3 separate regions of the Homo sapiens genome follow, and regions 1 and 2 are each linked to region 3. Evidence: fine-mapped expression QTL. A gene starts in region 3. Each other region holds a variant in brackets. All regions are shown on one strand. Distances are from middle to middle.

Region 1 (6,442 bases), 22 kb before region 3:
GGGCATGGCCAGCAGGCCTCAAGGCAGGACATGGAATCAGGAATGCAGCTTTCTCCAAGGGCAGCCTGGCCACTAGGTCTGCATTCAGATCCGCTTCCCGCTTTTACTTTGCTCTGTGGTCTTGGCAAGTCAATTTCCTTTTCCAAGCCTTAGTTTTCCCATCTCTAAAATGGGAATAACAACAGTATAGGCCAGGCATGGTGGCTCACGCCTGTAATCCCAGAACTTTGGGAGGCCGAGGTGGGCGGATCACTTAAGGTTAGGAATTGGAGACCAGCCTGGCCAACATGGTGAAACCCCATCTCTACTAAAAACACAAAAATTAGCTCGGTATGGTGGTGTGTCCCTGTAGTCCCAGCTACTGGGGAGGTTGAGGTAGGAGAATCACTTGAACCCTGGAGACAGAGGTTGCAGTGAGCTGAGATCACACCACTGCACTCCAGCCTGGGCAACAGAGTGAGACTCTGTCTCAAACAAAAATTAGCTGGGCATGCTGGCAGGTGCCTGTAGTCCCAGCTACTAGGGAGGCTGAGACAGGGAAATCGTTTGAAACCAGGAGGCGAACGTTGCAGTGAGCCGAGATTACGCCACTGCACTCCAGCCTGGGCGACACAGCAAGACTCCATCTCAAAAAAAAAATTAATTTGTATTTATGTTGATTGGAATGTAAGTGCCAAAAACAAAAGGCTTAAGTGTCCCTTGTGCATGGTAACCAGTAACTGACAAAGTAGGCCCCTAATACAGATTGGCTATGGGAATGCAGTATTGTTTAAGCACCTACTGTGTGCAAGGCCCTGGAACATAGGGCAATAAGATAGATGAGGAAGGCAGAGGTACAATGTGGAGTTTGATCCTGAAGGTAATAGAGAGCCACTGAGGGTATTTAGGGGTGGTGGGGTGGGAGCCTAGCATGCAGGGAGGCTGGAGGTGGGGATGAGGGCCAGCCTGACCTTGTCTCCGCCATCTCTGCAGGGTCACCGTCCTCTCTCCCAGTCCATTGTCGAGGCAGGTTCTGTAGGTAAGTGTGGGAGCCCCTAGGTCTGGGGGTCAGGTCACCCCAGAGCCTGGGTGTGAGAGGGTGACTCAAGGGGAGTGTGGATGGCAGTCCTTTTGTTCCATCTTAACCCTGTCTTCCCTTTTGTCCTCTCCCCTCCACCTCTGACTCCCCCAGGCCAGACTGATCTGAACAAGAGAGCCTCCCTGCCGGCTGGACTAGTGGGCACGCCTCCAGAGTCCCCCTCTGAGCCCAGGGAGGATGTCTTGGGGTTTCTGCCAGGCCCGAGGCAGGTCCCCGGGGCAGCAGGAGACTCCTCAGAAGCCAATGGCCCATGCCCCAGCCCCATCCCCACTCCAGAGCAGGGGCTAAGTCAGAGGGCAGTGCCATCCGAAGGGCGGGTGGGTGAGGCCAAAGGAGGGGGCGTGGTGAGTGTGGTGTGGGAAGGGCTGAGGGCCACAGAGGACTGTGCCACAGGGGCCACGGGCCCCGAGCTGGAGGCTAAGGTGGAGGAAGTGGTGCTGGAAGCCATCGGAGACAGGAAGGGAGCTGGTAGCCTGGAGCTCCCGGCCTGGGTGAAGGAGGACAGGGGCATCGTGGAGGTGGTCTGGGAGGGGGTGGGTGGCAGTGATGCAGAGGCCATGGGGGAGATAGGCAGGGTCCCTGAGGTCGTGCAGACTAGCTCGCCTAGGCTCCAGGAGAGATTAGAGGCAGCAGCTTCCATAGAAGGGGAAGATGTGCCCCAGGGCAGCCCTGAGGGTGATGGGCAGGGAGGCTCTGGAGGAGAGGAGGGATCCTTCATTTGGGTGGAGAGAGTGACCCTCAGTGAAGAGTGGGAGGAGCTGCTGGTGGAGGGGTTGGAAGGGCCCGAGGTGGCAGGGAGGGAGAGAGGAGATGAAAGCCCGCTGGGGGCCGAGGGGGCCAAGACGGGAGGAGGCGAGGAGACCTGGGAGGCAGAGAAGAGAAAAGCGGAAGAATCCATGGGAATAGGAAGTGAGGAAAAGCCAGGGACAGGGAGGGATGAAGCGGAGATGTCACCAGTGGTAGAGAGGAAAGGAGGAGAGAAGAAGTTGGAGCTGGAGAGCAGAGGAAGTGCAGAAAAGCTGGGAACAGAGAGGGAAGGAGGTGAGGAACCACTGGGCATAGAGAGAAAAGTTGAGGGACATTTGAGGGCAGAGAAGGAAGGAGATGAGGAAAAGCGAGGGGCAGAGGAGGAGGAGGTAGAAGAACCATTGGGAGTAGAGAAGAAAGGAGGTGAGGAAGAGCCAGAGGCAACCAAAGAACCACTGGAGGCAGAGAGAAAGGGAGGGGAGGAGACACTGGAGGCAGAGAAAAGGGGAGGTGAGGAATCATTGGAGACAGAGAAGACCCAAGGGACGGAGGGAGATCTGAATCTAGAACAAGGGTCTAGGGAAGGAAGTGAATCCCAGGCAGAGGAGATGAATGAGGCAGGGCCTCCCCTTGAGGCTAACACGGAGACAAGGCCAGAGAAGGAAGGACCCCAGCCCCAGGAGAAGCCAGTAGGAGCCCTGGAGGAGGAAGGAGTGAAGCCCCAAACCGCTGCTGAGGGCCAAGGCCCCTTGGGGGATGCCACACCTCTTCTGGCAGAGACCCCAGCCCCAGAGCAGCCCGCCGAATGCCAGCCACTGCTTCAGGGGGAGGGGCCCAGCGCCAACCCCAGTGCCCACCCTGTGCCCACCTACGCGCCTGCCCGGCAGCCTGAGCCATCTGCCCCCACCGAGGGTGAAGAGGCAAGTGGCCCTAAGCAAAAGACGTGCCAGTGTTGTGCGGTCATGTGAACCCATGCCCCTCCACCCCATGTCCAGCTCCTCTCACAGCTACCTCGGCCTCTTGGCACCCAGAAGAGGGTCCCAGGCACAGACAGGGACCACAGGACTGGCCATGGCACCTGGGAGCCAGCTAGCCTGCACGTCCACCTAAACCTGGGCTTCCAGACCCCTTGCCCACTGCCTGTAACCCTGGCCTCCTTCTGCGATGAAGCCTTTATACTTGAAAATAAAATGTGAAAGCACTCAAGACGGCTTGAATGTGTGTGTAGTCAGCACAGAATCACAGCGTCATCTCCTGGTGGGAAATTTGAGGCTTAACCCTGCTACAGTCAAAGATTATGAATCAGTGAGAGTATAGATTGAGCTGCTGTAACAAAAAGACCTCAAAGCTACAGTAGCTATAAAAATATAAAAGTTTATTTTTCTTAGTGGTTCTATCCATGCAGTCATTCAGGGATTCAGGTTCCTTTTCATTTCTTGCTCCACCTTCCCCTTGGGTATGACCAAAGCTGGATCATAGGCATGTGTTATGTTCCAGCTCATAGGCAAGGAAAGGATGTGGGGGAGCCCCCACCCAGACCCCGTGTTGGCATATGTCACTTCTGACCACATTCTGTTGTCAAGAACTCAGTCCATGCTGCACCTGGATGCAAGGGAGCTGAGATGGTGCCCAAATGCAGTGTTTTTTCTTTTCTTTTTTTTTTTTTTTTGCTTTTTATTAGTTTGTTTATTTTTGAGATAAGGTCTCATTCTGTTACCCAGCCTGGAGTGCAGTGGTGCAATCAGAGGTCCCTGCAGCTTCGAACTCCTGGGCTCAACCGATCCTCCCACCTCAGCCTCCCAAGTGGCTCGGACTACAGGTGTGTGCCATCATGCCCAGCTAATTGTTTTTGTTTTTGATGTTTTATTTTTGTAGTGAGGGGTCTTGCTATATTGCCCAGGCTGGTCTC[A/T]AACTCCTAGCTCTAAGTGATCCTTCCACCTTGGCCTGCCAAAGTGCTGGGATTACAGGCGTGAGCCACTGTGCTGGGGTCCAAATTCAGTTCTGTTACAGCGGAACAGATTTTGGCAGGCAGCTGCCACTCTCAATTTCATGTATTTTCCTTTGCTCCACCTTCCATCCGTGTCTTCCCCATGGGGGCCAAGCCCTTCTCTATAGGGGTCCTTCAATCCCAGCTCTGCCTGGCTGGGTGTCCTCAGGTAAGTGACTCAGCCTCTCTGAGTCCTCAGTGTCTTCATCCATCAAGAGGGCTAATCCAGGACTGGGGTGCAACCTGCATGAGCATCCCTCTAGCCTGGCTGGCAGCCCCCAGCCAGACGTGTGGTTCAGGCCAGAACCTGTGGCCTGGGGGGCCCCAGAAGGCCCAGCTCCTCAGGTGTGGGCAGGAAGTGCTTCTCATACCCAGAGTCAAGCGGGGCGGTGGCCTGGGCGGGCTGGGAGGACTCCATAACCGGCGGGGGCTCCATCTCCTCCACTTCCAGGATGGGCAAGTCCCCAAGGGGCTGGGCCTCAGGTACTTGCTGGGAAGAGATGAGCCTGTAATCCTGCCCCAGCCTCCCCGACCCACACCTCACCCCCTCCCCACTGCCCCAGGACTCCCCAGTCCCCCAGAGGGCTCCGACTAGCCGGCCCTTTGACTCACCTCCATGTGGGGCTGGCCTGAACTGCTGTTGGCAGGATCAGGAACTTTCTCCCAGACCCAGCGGGGCAGCACTTTGTGCCTTAGGTGGTAGCACCTGGCAAGACAGGAGTAGTCAGGGCAGCAGATCCAGATGGCCAGATGCCCCAGCCCAGGGTGCAGGGTTCATGAATGTGACTGCGCCCTGAGGCCTCCCTTCAAGCCCCCTGGAAGCTCAGCAAAATGCCCAGCTGCCTTCCCCACGTGGGTAGAGATGCATGTATCCGACAGCCTCACCTTCCAGAGGTGGCCAGGCTCAGGCCACACCCCAACAGGAACAAGCCCCACAAGAATAGGATGCCCGGCAGAACTTTCCACCTCAGGGTGTTATCTGGTAGGGTAGGGAAGAGATCATTCTTAATTTTTTATTTTATTTTATTTTTTATTTTTATTTTTGAGACAGAGTCTTGCCCTGTCACCCAGGCTGGAGTGCAGTGGTGCGACCTCAGCTCACTGCAACCTCCGCCTCCTGGGTTCAAGCAATTCTCTCTCAGCCTCCCAAGTAGCTGGGATTACAGCCGCACGCCACCACGCCCAGCTAATTTTTGTATTTTTAGTAGAGATGGGGTTTCACCACATTGGCCAGGCTGGTCTCGAACTCCTGACCTCAACTGATCCACCCGCCTCGGCCTCCCAAAGTGCTGAGATTACAGGCGTGAGCCACTGTGCCTGGCAATTCTTAATTTTTTAAAGACAGGGTCTTGCTTTGTTGCCCAGGCTGGAGCGCAGTGGTGTAATCCGTGTACTGCAGCCTCCAACTCCTGGGCTCAAGCGATCCTCGAGCCTCAGCTTCTCCAGGAGCTGGGACCGCAGGCGCATGCTACCACATCCAGCTAATTGTTTTATTTTTTGTAGAGAAGGGGGTCTCACTATGTTGCCCAGGCTGGTCTCGAGCTCCTGGGCTCAAGTGATCCACCTGCCTCAGCCTCCCAGAGTGTTAGGATTACAGGGGTGAGCCACTGCACCTAGCTTCCAAGTAATGACTCCAGATGCTACCTCTCCCCACTGTGGAGTACATCCCCTCCCTGTGGCAATCCCATCCCAACCCCCCTACCTGGTAGATGAAGCCGGAGGATGGGACCAGGAGGGCCCTGTCCAGCGATGGTAGATGCTGTCACCCACAGCTCACAGGGACCCCAAGGAAGGTCAGGCAGGGTGACACTCTGTGTGTTGCCACTCACTGGAGAACACAACCAAAGAAGTTGGGGAGGTGGTCAAGCCTACCACAGGGCCTTTGCATGTGCTCTTCCTGCTGTCTGCAACACTCTCTCCCAGGTATCCACATGGCTCCCTCCTCATCTCTTTTAGGTCTTTGCTCAAAGGTCACCTCTTCCGTGAGGCTTTCCTTGACCCCGCTCTATTTGAAATTGCACCCCCTTCACCACCCACCTTCCTTGTTTGATTCTCTTTTTTTTTTTTTTTTTTTGACATGAAGTCTCGCTCTGTAACACTCTGTTGCCCAGGATGGAGTGCAGTCATGTGATCTCAGCTCACTGCAACCTCTGCCTCCTGGGTTCAAGCAATTCTGCTGTCTTAGCCTCCTGAGTAGCTGGGACTACAGGTGCCCGCCACCACATCTGGCTAATTTTTATATTTTTAGTAGAGACTGGGTTTCACCATATTGGTCAGACTGGTCTCAAACTCCTGACCTCAGGTGATCTGCCCACCTCGGCCTCCAAAAGTGCTGGGATTATAGGTGTGAGCCACCTTGCCCAGCCCCTTGCTTCATTCTCTACTCAGCACTTATCACCATCTCATACACTGCTTAGATATTATTTAGTTTGTCTTTGCATGATCTTGGCTCACTGCAACCTCCACCTCCCGGATTCAAGCAATTCTAGTGCCTCAGCCACCTTCTGAGTAGCTGGACTACAGGCTGTGCCACCATGCCTGGCTAATTTTTGTATTTTTAGTAGAGATGAGGTTTCACCATGTTGGCCAGGCTGGTCTCGAACTCCTGACCTCAAGTGATCTGCCTGCCT
Region 2 (5,000 bases), 44 kb after region 3:
GTCACATCCTAGCTCAACCCTGATGGCTCCAAGCCAGGTGGTTCCATGGGCACTCTTTGAGAAACCCCAGCCTAGGCTTTCTCAGCTCTGGGAGAGCAGGCTCCTTCCCCTCCCCCGATACCTGACAAAAAAGGACTTTAAAAGCTACACACACAGACACACACTCTCTTTCTCTCTGTCTGTCTGTCTGTCTGTCTGTCTGTCTCTCTCTCTCTCTCTCTAAGCTGGGTGTGGTGGTGGGCGCCGTAATCCCAGCTACTTGGGAGGCTGAGGCAGGAGAATCGCTTGAACCCAGGAGGTGGAGGTTGCAGTGAGCCAAGACTGCACCATTGCACTCCAGCCTGGGCAACAAGAGTGAAACTCCGTCTCAAAAACAAAAAAACAAAAACAAAATGCAAAAATGCTCCACACACCCTGTGCCCCTACTAGCAAATGTCAAGCCCCTTCAACTCTGGCCTGCCAGCCTCCCAGCCTCGCCCACTTCCACCCATCCCCTCACATACCTGGTCCAGCCCCTCTTGCCTTCCTACAGCTCCACAAACCCGCCAGGCTCAGTCCTGCCTCCTGACCTTTGCACTCTCGGTACCCTCTGCCAGGAGCACTCCCTGCCCCAGACCCTCTGGGAGCTTGCCTCTTGTCTCCCTTAGGTCGCTGCTCAGACACTACCTTTCTGACTCCACACCTCCCTGCCCCTACCCCCATTGCTCACTCTCTGTCTTCTTGTTTGTTTGTTTTTGAGACAAAGTCTCGCTGTGTCACCCAGGCCGGATGCAGTGGTGCGATCTCAGTTCACTGCAACCTCTGCCTCCTGGGTTCAAGCGATTCTCCTGCCTCAGCCTCCCGAGTAGCTGGGATTACAGGGGCGCACCACCACACCAGGGTAATTTTTGTATTTTTTGGTAGAGATGGCGTTTTGCCATGTTGGCCAGGCTGGTCTCAAACTTCTTACCTCAAGTAATCTGCCTGCCTCGGCCTCCCAAAGTGCTGGGATTATAGGTGTGAGCCACTGCGCCCCGCTGGTCTTCTTAACACTTAACACTACTTGAAGTTACAATAATGGGATGGTGGGGGTGCCCACCTGCAGGCAGGGCTCTGTCAGTGCTCAGTCTCTGTGGAATGACTGAGGAGCACCAGCCTGACCCAGAACAGCCTAGAGGAGCACCTAGCACAGCCATCATGTCCCATCAGCTCCTGCATGGCTGACTGTTTGCAGGAGGCCTCGCATGTCACCAGTGGATGGCTCTGCTTGGCGCCCAGAGTGTCTGATGGGTCCTGATCCACGCCCTGGGTGTGGGTCTTACCTGCTTCAGGGTCCAGGCTCCCTAGAGCCAGGGTCTGGAGTGGGCACACAGCTCCAGGCTCCACCACTCCCCAAGTCCTTCCACTCTTGACCTTGGCTTCTCCAGCTCTTCCCGCACTCCCTCAGGGGGGCCCTGGTGCTTCAAAGTCAAGACCAAGTCCCCGCACTTTGGGAGGCTGAGGCAGGCGGATCACCTGAGGTCAGGAGTTCAAGACCAGCCTGGCCAACATGATGAAACCCCGTCTCTAATAAAAATACAAAAATTAGCCCGGCGTGTTGGCGTGTGCCTGTAGCACCAGCTACTGGGGAGGCTGGGGCAGGAGAATCGCTCGAACCTGGGAGGTGGAGGTTGCAGTGAGTCGAGATCATGTCATTGCGCTCCAGCCTGAGTAACAGAGCAAGACTCTGTCTCAAAAAAAAAAAAAAAAAAAAGAGCAAGAAGTCAAGAGCAAGTCAAGAGCAAGGCATGGTCTTTGGGTCAGACAGAGCTAGGCCGGACTCTAAGTAGCTGTTAGGCATGGGGAGGTGGCCTCTGTCTCCCCCATCTTGGTAGTGTTCCCAGGAGGGTACTCTGTACCCATGAGGGCAGGCTGTAGCAACCCTGCTGTCCACAGAACTCTCTGGGGCTCACTTTGGTCAGGCGGTAGCTTAGTCGCCTTTCACAGTGGTCCCAGGGAATTTCATTTCCCTGCCACTCCACATTCTGGCAGGTGCCAGCCTGTCCCCAGAAGGGTCACTGGGCAATGCTTCCTGGATTTGTTCTGAGGAAGAGGAGGTTGGCTTGTGCCCTGCCAGCTGTCCCCTCCCCCACCCCTTGCAGTAACTCCCCAGCCTTCCTCCCTGACCCTCTGCCAGGTTAGCGTCCTTCCTCATCTAAGGGTGGCCGGGGCCACGTGAGCGCCGGGGAAGCAGGAGTAACTGACACCAGTGAAGGCTGCCACAAGGCACCTAGGACTTCTCCCAAGCCAGGAGCAATCGGAGCTGACCAGGGACCCAGGGAGGTGGCAGGGAAGAGGAAGGGAGGGGCCTGGACCCAGACTTGGAGCCTGGGGCTGGACACCAGCCGACACCAAACCAGACACAGCTCACCCAGCCCCGGTCCCTGCCTGCCCTGCCTAAAGGTGACTTTGGAGGTGGTAGGAAGGAAGATCAAGTTTCCCTGGTCAGGAACAATACTAGATCCATAAATCCCTGTCCTCAGAGGCCATCAGACTCTCCCAGAACCCAAGGCGGAAGGAGAGTGCTGTGGGCTCTGGCAGCCACTCCTGGGAAGGTGAAACCGAGCCGGCCTGCAGGGAACAGGGGCCGCCCCGAAGGAGGGGCCGAGTCCGGCCCTTCTTCCCTGCTTCTCTCTCACTTGGAGTTCTAGGGGGGCCAAGAAGACTTGTGTCCAGACAGAGAAGTGGAGTGTGTTTGTCAGCATTCCCAAGCACAGATGGGGAAACTGAGGTTGGAGCAGACAAGGGATAGAGGACACTGGGGGCAGCAGGGGCCCCTCCAGGAGCCCCTGACTGACATCATCCCAGGGAGCCCAGGGGCAGGAGGCAGAGGGTCAGGTGGCCCCATCTGTCTATGGGGAAGGGGGCCAGGCCCCCAGGGTGGATGCCAGGAGTCCAGCCTCTAGGGCCTCCCCTGGGCTCCCCCAAGTAGCTCATTTAAGGTTTGAGTAGGTCTAGATGGGGAAGTGCGGGGCCCGGGGAGGATGGGTGCCCACTTGTCAGAGTCATTCCACTGCTCAGAGATGTTAATGTGTCAGATTCAGAGACAGGAAATCGGCCGCCGTTTCCTGAGACAGTGGGGGCCTCCCTGGCCTCCTGC[G/A]CATGCCCAGAGTGGCGATCTCCGGCAGATAGATGCAGACGCTCGCTCGCAGACTCAGTGCCACCCCCCACTTCCCCTCCTGGCTTCTCCTCCCTGAAACACAGCGAGGGCCAGACCCAGTGGTGGAGGGGCCCTGCCCCGGCCGCAGGCAGACAGGGATGGCTGCACAGGAAGCCCTCATCCGCATGAGTCACTCAGGCTCACCTGTTAGCCTCGTGGCGCATCCCCTGGCGCCCTCCTGGGCTGGCAGGCGGGGTCCCAGCCTTGAGGGCTACCCCAGAGGCAGGAGACGGGCAAGGCTGCTTCCTGGAGACAGCCACCTGGTCTCAGCAGGTCCCCAGGCCTCCTCCTGCTGTAGGTCCTGCTCAGCGACCAGCCCCTGAGCCCTGGAGAGGGTGGGGGGCCAGCCCCCCACTCCCTGCCCACCTTGAGCTTCCTGGGTGAGACACCATCCCTTAGGCTGGGCCTGAGTCCTTGGACCCCACGGACCCAGGTGTGCAGTGCCGGTCACATGACTCGGGGCTGTCTCGGGTTTCTCCCAGGAGGGGCCCTCTCAGCAAGGGCCTCCTCCCTTATGGCTCAGGGCTGGGAAGCCTAAAGCAGATGCCAGGGAAGATTCCAGCAAAACACAGGGATTAGGGCCTGTGGAATTGGCTGCACAGGTAGCTGGTCAGGCAGGCATGGGATTGACCAAATGCCCCACAGCCCACATGCGGCTACGCGGAGGCCTCCCCCAACACCTCCCACATCTGGCAACCCCCGCCCCCAACACACACTCCTGCGCTCTGCCCTTGACTTGGCCTTTGCATCTGCCCTGAATAGCCCTCCTGCCCTGTCCAGGCCCCTCTCCCTCCTGTGCCCTGCCTGGACAGCCGAGACCCAGTCTGGATACTTCAGACTTTGAGGGGTCCCCGTAGACCCCCAGCTTACTTTCCTTCCTGTGCCCATATACCCAAGTTCACACATCACTGCCCTTGGGGCGCAGCCCAGGCAGAACCAGTGACTCCGGTTCCATATGTGGTATGAGGTTCGTGTGGGCCCAGAGGGGAACCTGCGTCATGGCCTGCACGGTGGATGGTGCATTTGACCTTGGACAGATCACTTCCTTGCTTCTGGTCTCTGTTGCCTTGTCTGAAAATGGGTAATAAAAGCTCTTACTGTCAGCCAGGTGCAGTGGCTCATGCCTGTAATCCCAGCACTTTGAGAGACCGAGGCGGGCGGATCACTTGAAGCCAGGAGTTCAAGAGCAGCCTGGCCAACATGGCAAAACCCCGTCTCTACTAAAACCACAAAAATTAGCTGGGCGTGGTGGCGGGTGCCTGCAGTCCTAGCTACTCAGTGGGTTGAGGCAGGAGAATCACTTGAACCGGGAGGCGGAGATTTCAGTGAGCAGAGATTGCGCCACTGCACTCCAGCCTGGGCAACTGTGAGACCCTGTCTCAAAAAAAAAAAAAAATCCCGGAAAGCTCTTACTGTCAGCCAGGCACAGTGGCTCACGCCGGTAATTCCGGCACTTCGGGAGATGGAAGCAGGTGGATTGCTTGAGTCCAAGAGTTCGAGACCAGCCTGGGCAATATAGCAAGACCCCAGTCCCTATTAAAAATACAAAAATTAGCCGGACATGGTGGTGCATGCGTGTAGTCCCAGCTACTTGGGAGGCTGAGGCAGGATAATTGCTTGAACCCCAGGGGACAGAGGTTGCAGTGAGCCAAGATCGTGCTACTGCACTCCAGCCTGGGTGACAGAGCGAAACCCTGTCTCAAAAAAACAAAAAAGCTCTATCTCTGGCTGTCCAGAGTCTAACATAACACCTAGTGTGCCAGAAGCAACACTAGTGTCTGCAGTGATAACTCCTTGCCCGTGGCCCTTCAGTCCTGCCGGG
Region 3 (5,315 bases):
CTGAGTAACTGGGATTACAGGCATGCACCACCACATCGGCTAATCTTTGTATTTTTAGTGGAGACAGGGTTTCACCATGTTGGTCAGGCTGGTCTCGAACTCCTGACCTCGTGATCTGCCCGCCTCGGCCTCCCAAAGTGCTGAGATTATAGGCGTGAGCCACCACGCCAGCTTTTATTTTTTAAAATTTTTTTGAGACAGAGTCTCACTCTGTCACCCAGGCTGGAGTGCAATGGCACGATCTTAGCTCACCGCAACCTCTGCCTCCTGGGTTCAAGTGATCCTCCCACCTCAGCCTCCCGAGTAGCTGGAATTACTACAGCTGGTCTTGAACTCCTGACCTCAAGTAATCTGCCCACCTCGGCCTCTCAAAGTGCTGGGATTATAGGTGTGAACCACTGCGCCTGGCCTATTTCCCTTTATTTATATTATATTTTATATTTTTAAGAGACGGGCTCTCGGCCAGGCACGGTGGCTCACACCTGTAATCCCAGAACTTTGGGAGGCTGAGGCGGGTGGATCACCTGAGGTCAGGAGTTCAAGACCAGCCTGGCCAACATGGTGAAACCTCCCCCCTCTACTAAAAATACAAAAATTAGCCAGGCATGGTGGCACATGCCTGTAATCCCAGCTACTCTGGAGGCTGAGGCAGGAGAATCGCTTGAACCCAGGAGGTGGAGGTTGCAGTGAGCCGAGACCACACCATTGCATTCCAGCCTGGGCAACAAGAGTGAAACTCCGTTTCAAAAAAAAAAAAAAAAAAAAGTGACGGGCTCTCTAAAACTCTGAACTCCTCCTGGGCTCAAGCGATCCTCCCGCCTCGGCCTCCCAAAATGCTGGGATGACAGGTGCAAACCACCTCTCCTGGCCCTATGATTGCTATTTAATAGAGAAATGAAAAGGAGACTCAAAGAGGGAAAGTGACTTGCCCAGGGTGACACAGCAAAGAAACGAGGGAAGCTAGAATTGAAGGAGTGGAGGAGTATTGGGGGAGGGGGGCAGACTCCTGGGACTTTCTTTTCTTTTCTTTTCTTTTTTTTTTTTTTTTTTTTTGAGACAGAGTCTCCCTCTGTCCCCCAGGCTGGAGTGCAGTGGCGAGATCTGGGCTTACTGCAACCTCCGCCTCCCGGGTTCAAGCGATTCTCCTGTCTCAGCCTCCTGAGTATCAGGGACTACAGGCGCGCGCCACCACCCCTGGGTAATTTTTTTTTTTTTTTTTTTTTTGTATTTTTAGTATAGACAGGGTTTCACCATGTTGGCCAGGCTTGACTCCTGGAACCTTTCAACCAAAGCAGCCTGGGGCCTGAGCGGCCACCTCCAAAGCCTGTTTCCCCACGTCACCTCCCTGTACTCACTACTTTTGGCTCTGGAGGTGTAACTCGGAGGGGGCTCCCAGGTCCCCAAGAGGCTCCCACGAGCAGTTCAAGTCGCCCAAGGGTCCAACTCCGTAGCACTGCAGTGGCCCGGCGCTGCCTGGAGAGGGAGTCAGAGGGTCTCAGGAAAGGGGGTCGAATCCCCCCCTTCCGCCTGCACACCCCAGAACTTGGACTTCTGACAATTGCAAGGTGGGGGGGCTTAGGGAAATGAGCAGCAGGAAGGGAGGCGCTAGGCACCCCTGCCCGGGCTCCGTGCAAACCCCCCCTTTCCCTGTGCTCGCCACATCCTGTTAACCACCCAGAGAGCTCCCCCACCCCGCCCCGGGGCTCCGGTTCGACCTCGCTGCCGCCCATTCCCCAGTGTCGCCGGGTCCCTGCCCCGGGAGGAGCCGAGTGGCGCCTGCACCTCTACCGTTCGCTCTGCATACGCGTGGCTTATCCTGGAGCACTGGCGCCTTCGCGGGGAGCGCAGCGGCAGCGCCCGGGACACGAGCTCCCTCCAGCACTCACCCTGGGGACGCGTCCGCTGGAAAAGCACCCACAACAGAGGCAGCAGCGCCAGCTTGGGCAGCGGCCACAGCCAGAAAGGGGCGCCCCTGCCTCCCCGCATGGCGTCCCTCGGGAGCCCCGAGTCCGGCCCAGCCTTGCCGGGTCCGCGCGGCCGCGCTGCTCCTCTTCGAGCTCTGGGTACAGCGCCCGAGGCGGCAACGGGAAGCCGAACCACCCCGGCAGGCCGCCTCCGCACCTTTCGCTCAGGGTCCCCGCCCCTTCCCCGCGACGGAAAGTCCCCGGCTGGGGCTGCTTGAGGGGGAGTGGGGAGGCGGCCTGGGCGTCTGGGGGTGGGGGCCTCCGAGGGGTGGTACCGCGTACCGCGCATCCCCGAAACCTGTCCTACGCCCAACAACCATACACACACACACACACTCTCTGCCAAAGTCTTCGAATTTTTATTATTGGAGTTTGGGAAGATTCGAATGTGCCCAGAGCTCTCCTAGGGGGGCCACCTGCCACCTTCTCTGGGGTCCACAGCCTTGGAACTCTGGCAGGGGAGTTGGAGGGAGAGGGGATGGAAAGCAGGGCAAAGGAAGCGTGCGTGCAAAGGCTGGACTGAGACAGAGGCTTGATTTTAGCTGGTCAGGGGACAATGGCCACAGTTTGGACTGGGAAGGGGGCAGGGGTCTCTGTGTGGCCAGCCTAGGTAGAGTAGGGACCCAGTTGTGGCAGTGGAGTGTGTAGGCCAGGCAAACGCATGGTTAGGGCTGGGGAGAGGTCAGGGGTCAGGATGGGGGGGTCCCCACTTGACCAGGCAGGGGCACAGCTTCCTTAGGGGCCAGGGTCATGATAGGCTGGTCAAAGGGCAGGGTTGGATAGGTGGTGTCGGGAGACTGTGCCTGAGCCCACAGTGCCTCTGTGACTTGTAGATGAATGAATGAATGTGTGAGGCTCGAAAGACAGGTGCCCAGCCAGACACTAGTTGAGTGGATGGCAGGACTGGGGCATTGGTCCTGGTGCCCACGGCTGCCCAGCCCTCAAACTAGCAAAGGCTACTGATTTCACTTTTGCTACACCCCCACTTGCAGCAGCTGCTGGAAAGGCCAGCCAGGACATCTCGGCTGCCCCGAAGAACCCCAGGGGTTCCTTGCCAGCTGGGTCGCCCCCTGTAAAAGGCCTGGGGTGACTTGGTCAGGGCCAGCCACTCGCTGGACCCCATGGCCTCATCCAGCTCGCCTGCCAGACTGTCTTCATCAGCATCTGCATCCGGGAAGGTATCTCCTGCAAAAGATGAACAGAGTTAGTGATCAGGGCTCAGCTGCTGCTGCACCCACAGTCATGGCTCCTGGCCAGTCTAGCTCTGATCTTGTGACAACAGTCATAGACATAGTTCAGAGTTTTTATTCCACCCAGTCCTGGGTTCAAATTCTGGCTCTGCCAGAGTAGGTGGGATTACAGGTGTCTGCCAGCAGGCCTGGCTGATTTTTGTATTGTTATAGAGATGGGGTTCACCATGTTGTTCAGGCTGGTCGCAAACTCCTGACCTCAAGTGATGTGCCCACCTCAGCCACCCAAAGTGCTGGGATTACAGGCGTGAGCCACCGCACCCAGCCCTGTCATTTATTTCTCCTTACTCTTTATTAATTGAGGACCTGGTACATTTGGGAGCTGGGCTGACTGAGCATGAATCCAGCTTCTCTAATCGTGAGCAAGTAAATTTACTTCTTGGAGCCTCAATGTTCTTTTCTGCAAAGTGGAAAAAAATAATTACTCCAACCTTCTCAAGTTTTATAAGGAGTTAATATTCATTAAAAAAAAAAACTTAGAACAATGTCTGGAACATGATGAGCACTCAAAAATGACTATTGAGTCCGGGCACGGTGTCTCACACCTGTAATCCCAGCACTTCCAGGGGCACATGCTGGAGGATCACCAGAACCAGGAGTTCAAGAACAGCCTGGACAACACAGCACTACCCTGTCTCTACAAATAATAAAAAGTTAGACATGTTGGCACAAGCCTGTAGTCCCAGCTACTCAGGAGGCTGAGGCAGGAGAATTGCTTGAGCCCAAGAGGTTGAAGCTGCAGTGAGCTGTGATCACACCACTGCACTCCAGTCTGGGCAACAGAGCAAGACCCTGTCTCAAAAATAATAATAATAATAATAATAATAATAATAATAATTTATTGATCACTTACTTTGTGTCAAACAACGTTTTAAGTGCTTTAGCAGGTTAACTTCTTTATTCTTCTCAGTGATAACCAGTTGAGGTGGGTGCAGTTATCACCCGTATTTTCCAGAGGAGACCACTGAGGCAGGACTCAGTAAAGAATTTGCATGGCTGGGCGCGGTGGCTCATGCCTGTAATCCCAGCACTTTGGGAGGCTGAGGTGGGAGGATCACCTGAGGTCAGGAGTTGGAGACCAGCCTGGCCAACATGGTGAAACTGTCTCTACTAAAAATAAAAAGATTAGCGAGGTATGGTGGCACACATCTGTAATCCCAGCTACTTGGGAGGCTGGAGGCACGAGAATCGCTTGAACCCAGGTGATGGAGGTTACAGTGAGCCAAGATTGCACCACTGCACTCCAGCCTGGGCAACAGAATGAGATTCTGTCTCAAAAAAAAAAAAAATAGTAGCACATGAACACACAACTATTACATTGTAGAGCTACTATCTGAATCCAAGTGGTGTGTCTTCTATGTCCACGCTCATACCTATCCTCCTTCTCACCATCATGAATATCTATTTGCCAGGTCCCTGCCCCTCATGAAGCTAGGTCTTCTGTTCCCTCTGACTCTCCTGATGGATCCCAGATTGTGCCGCTGCCCTGCTGAGACTCTGCCCTAATCTGTTTTGATTTAATCATACCACTTAATCCTGCAAGATTCAGGAACTGTGTCTCCCATTTGAAGATAAAGACACTCAGAGACTCTAATCTCAGCACTTAGGGAGGCCGAGGTGGGAGGATCACTTGAGCCCAGGAGTTCGAGACCAGCCTAGGCAACATAGTGAGACCCCTGTTTCTACAAAAAAAAAATTTAAAACTAGCCAGGCATGGTGTCAGGTGCCTGTGGTCTCAACTACTCTGGAGGCGGAGGCAGGAGAATCACTTGAGCCTGGGAGGTCGAGGCTGCAATGAGCAGTGATTGGGCCACTGCATTCAAGCCTGGGCAATGGAGTGAGACCACATCTCCAAAAAAAAGACACTCAGAGACGGAAGAAAAACCAACTTGCTGGGGAGAGGTCATGCATTAGGTGACAAACCCAGCTATGTGTATACCACACCCTTCACATTACCTGCTGGAAAGGGTTGGAAAACACTTCGGTGTTGTCTTTGCAAATGGCACGCTCCCCGCCCCCACCTGTCCTCAGACTTCCAGCCCCCATGGATGGCTTGCAACACCCCATCCCAGCTCTGCAGCTCTGCTAACTCCTGAGCCCT

What was found.
Region 1: its variant is fine-mapped to the expression of IL27RA in whole blood (TOPMed, PIP above 0.99).
Region 2: its variant is fine-mapped to the expression of IL27RA in whole blood (TOPMed, PIP above 0.99).

The regions. Positions count from the first base shown.
Region 1 is chr19:14,049,956-14,056,397 of GRCh38, reverse strand. IL27RA (interleukin 27 receptor subunit alpha) reads right to left here. Exons shown (of 14, transcript NM_004843.4): 11 at 5,515-5,640; 12 at 4,698-4,791; 13 at 4,425-4,518; 14 at 3,180-4,302. The coding sequence ends at 4,108. PALM3 (paralemmin 3) reads left to right here. Exons shown (of 7, transcript NM_001145028.2): 6 at 973-1,018; 7 at 1,172-3,031. The coding sequence ends at 2,793. Among named protein-coding and RNA genes, the nearest start is that of PALM3, 8.9 kb to the left of the region's middle. RefSeq lists an enhancer at 1-298. The variant A/T (reference allele first, on the strand shown) is at 3,735.
Region 2 is chr19:13,984,757-13,989,756 of GRCh38, reverse strand. The region is part of intron 2 of RFX1 (regulatory factor X1); the gene reads left to right. Among named protein-coding and RNA genes, the nearest start is that of RFX1, 19 kb to the left of the region's middle. RefSeq lists enhancers at 1,843-2,733, 3,549-3,598, 3,625-4,516. The variant G/A (reference allele first, on the strand shown) is at 3,119.
Region 3 is chr19:14,028,544-14,033,858 of GRCh38, reverse strand. IL27RA (interleukin 27 receptor subunit alpha) reads right to left here and starts at 2,097. Exons shown (of 14, transcript NM_004843.4): 1 at 1,887-2,097; 2 at 1,356-1,473. The coding sequence starts at 1,986. RLN3 (relaxin 3) reads right to left here. Exons shown (of 2, transcript NM_080864.4): 2 at 2,308-3,149. The coding sequence ends at 2,911. RefSeq lists silencers at 1,879-1,928, 1,939-2,058, 2,069-2,118, 2,189-2,318 and an enhancer at 4,885-4,934.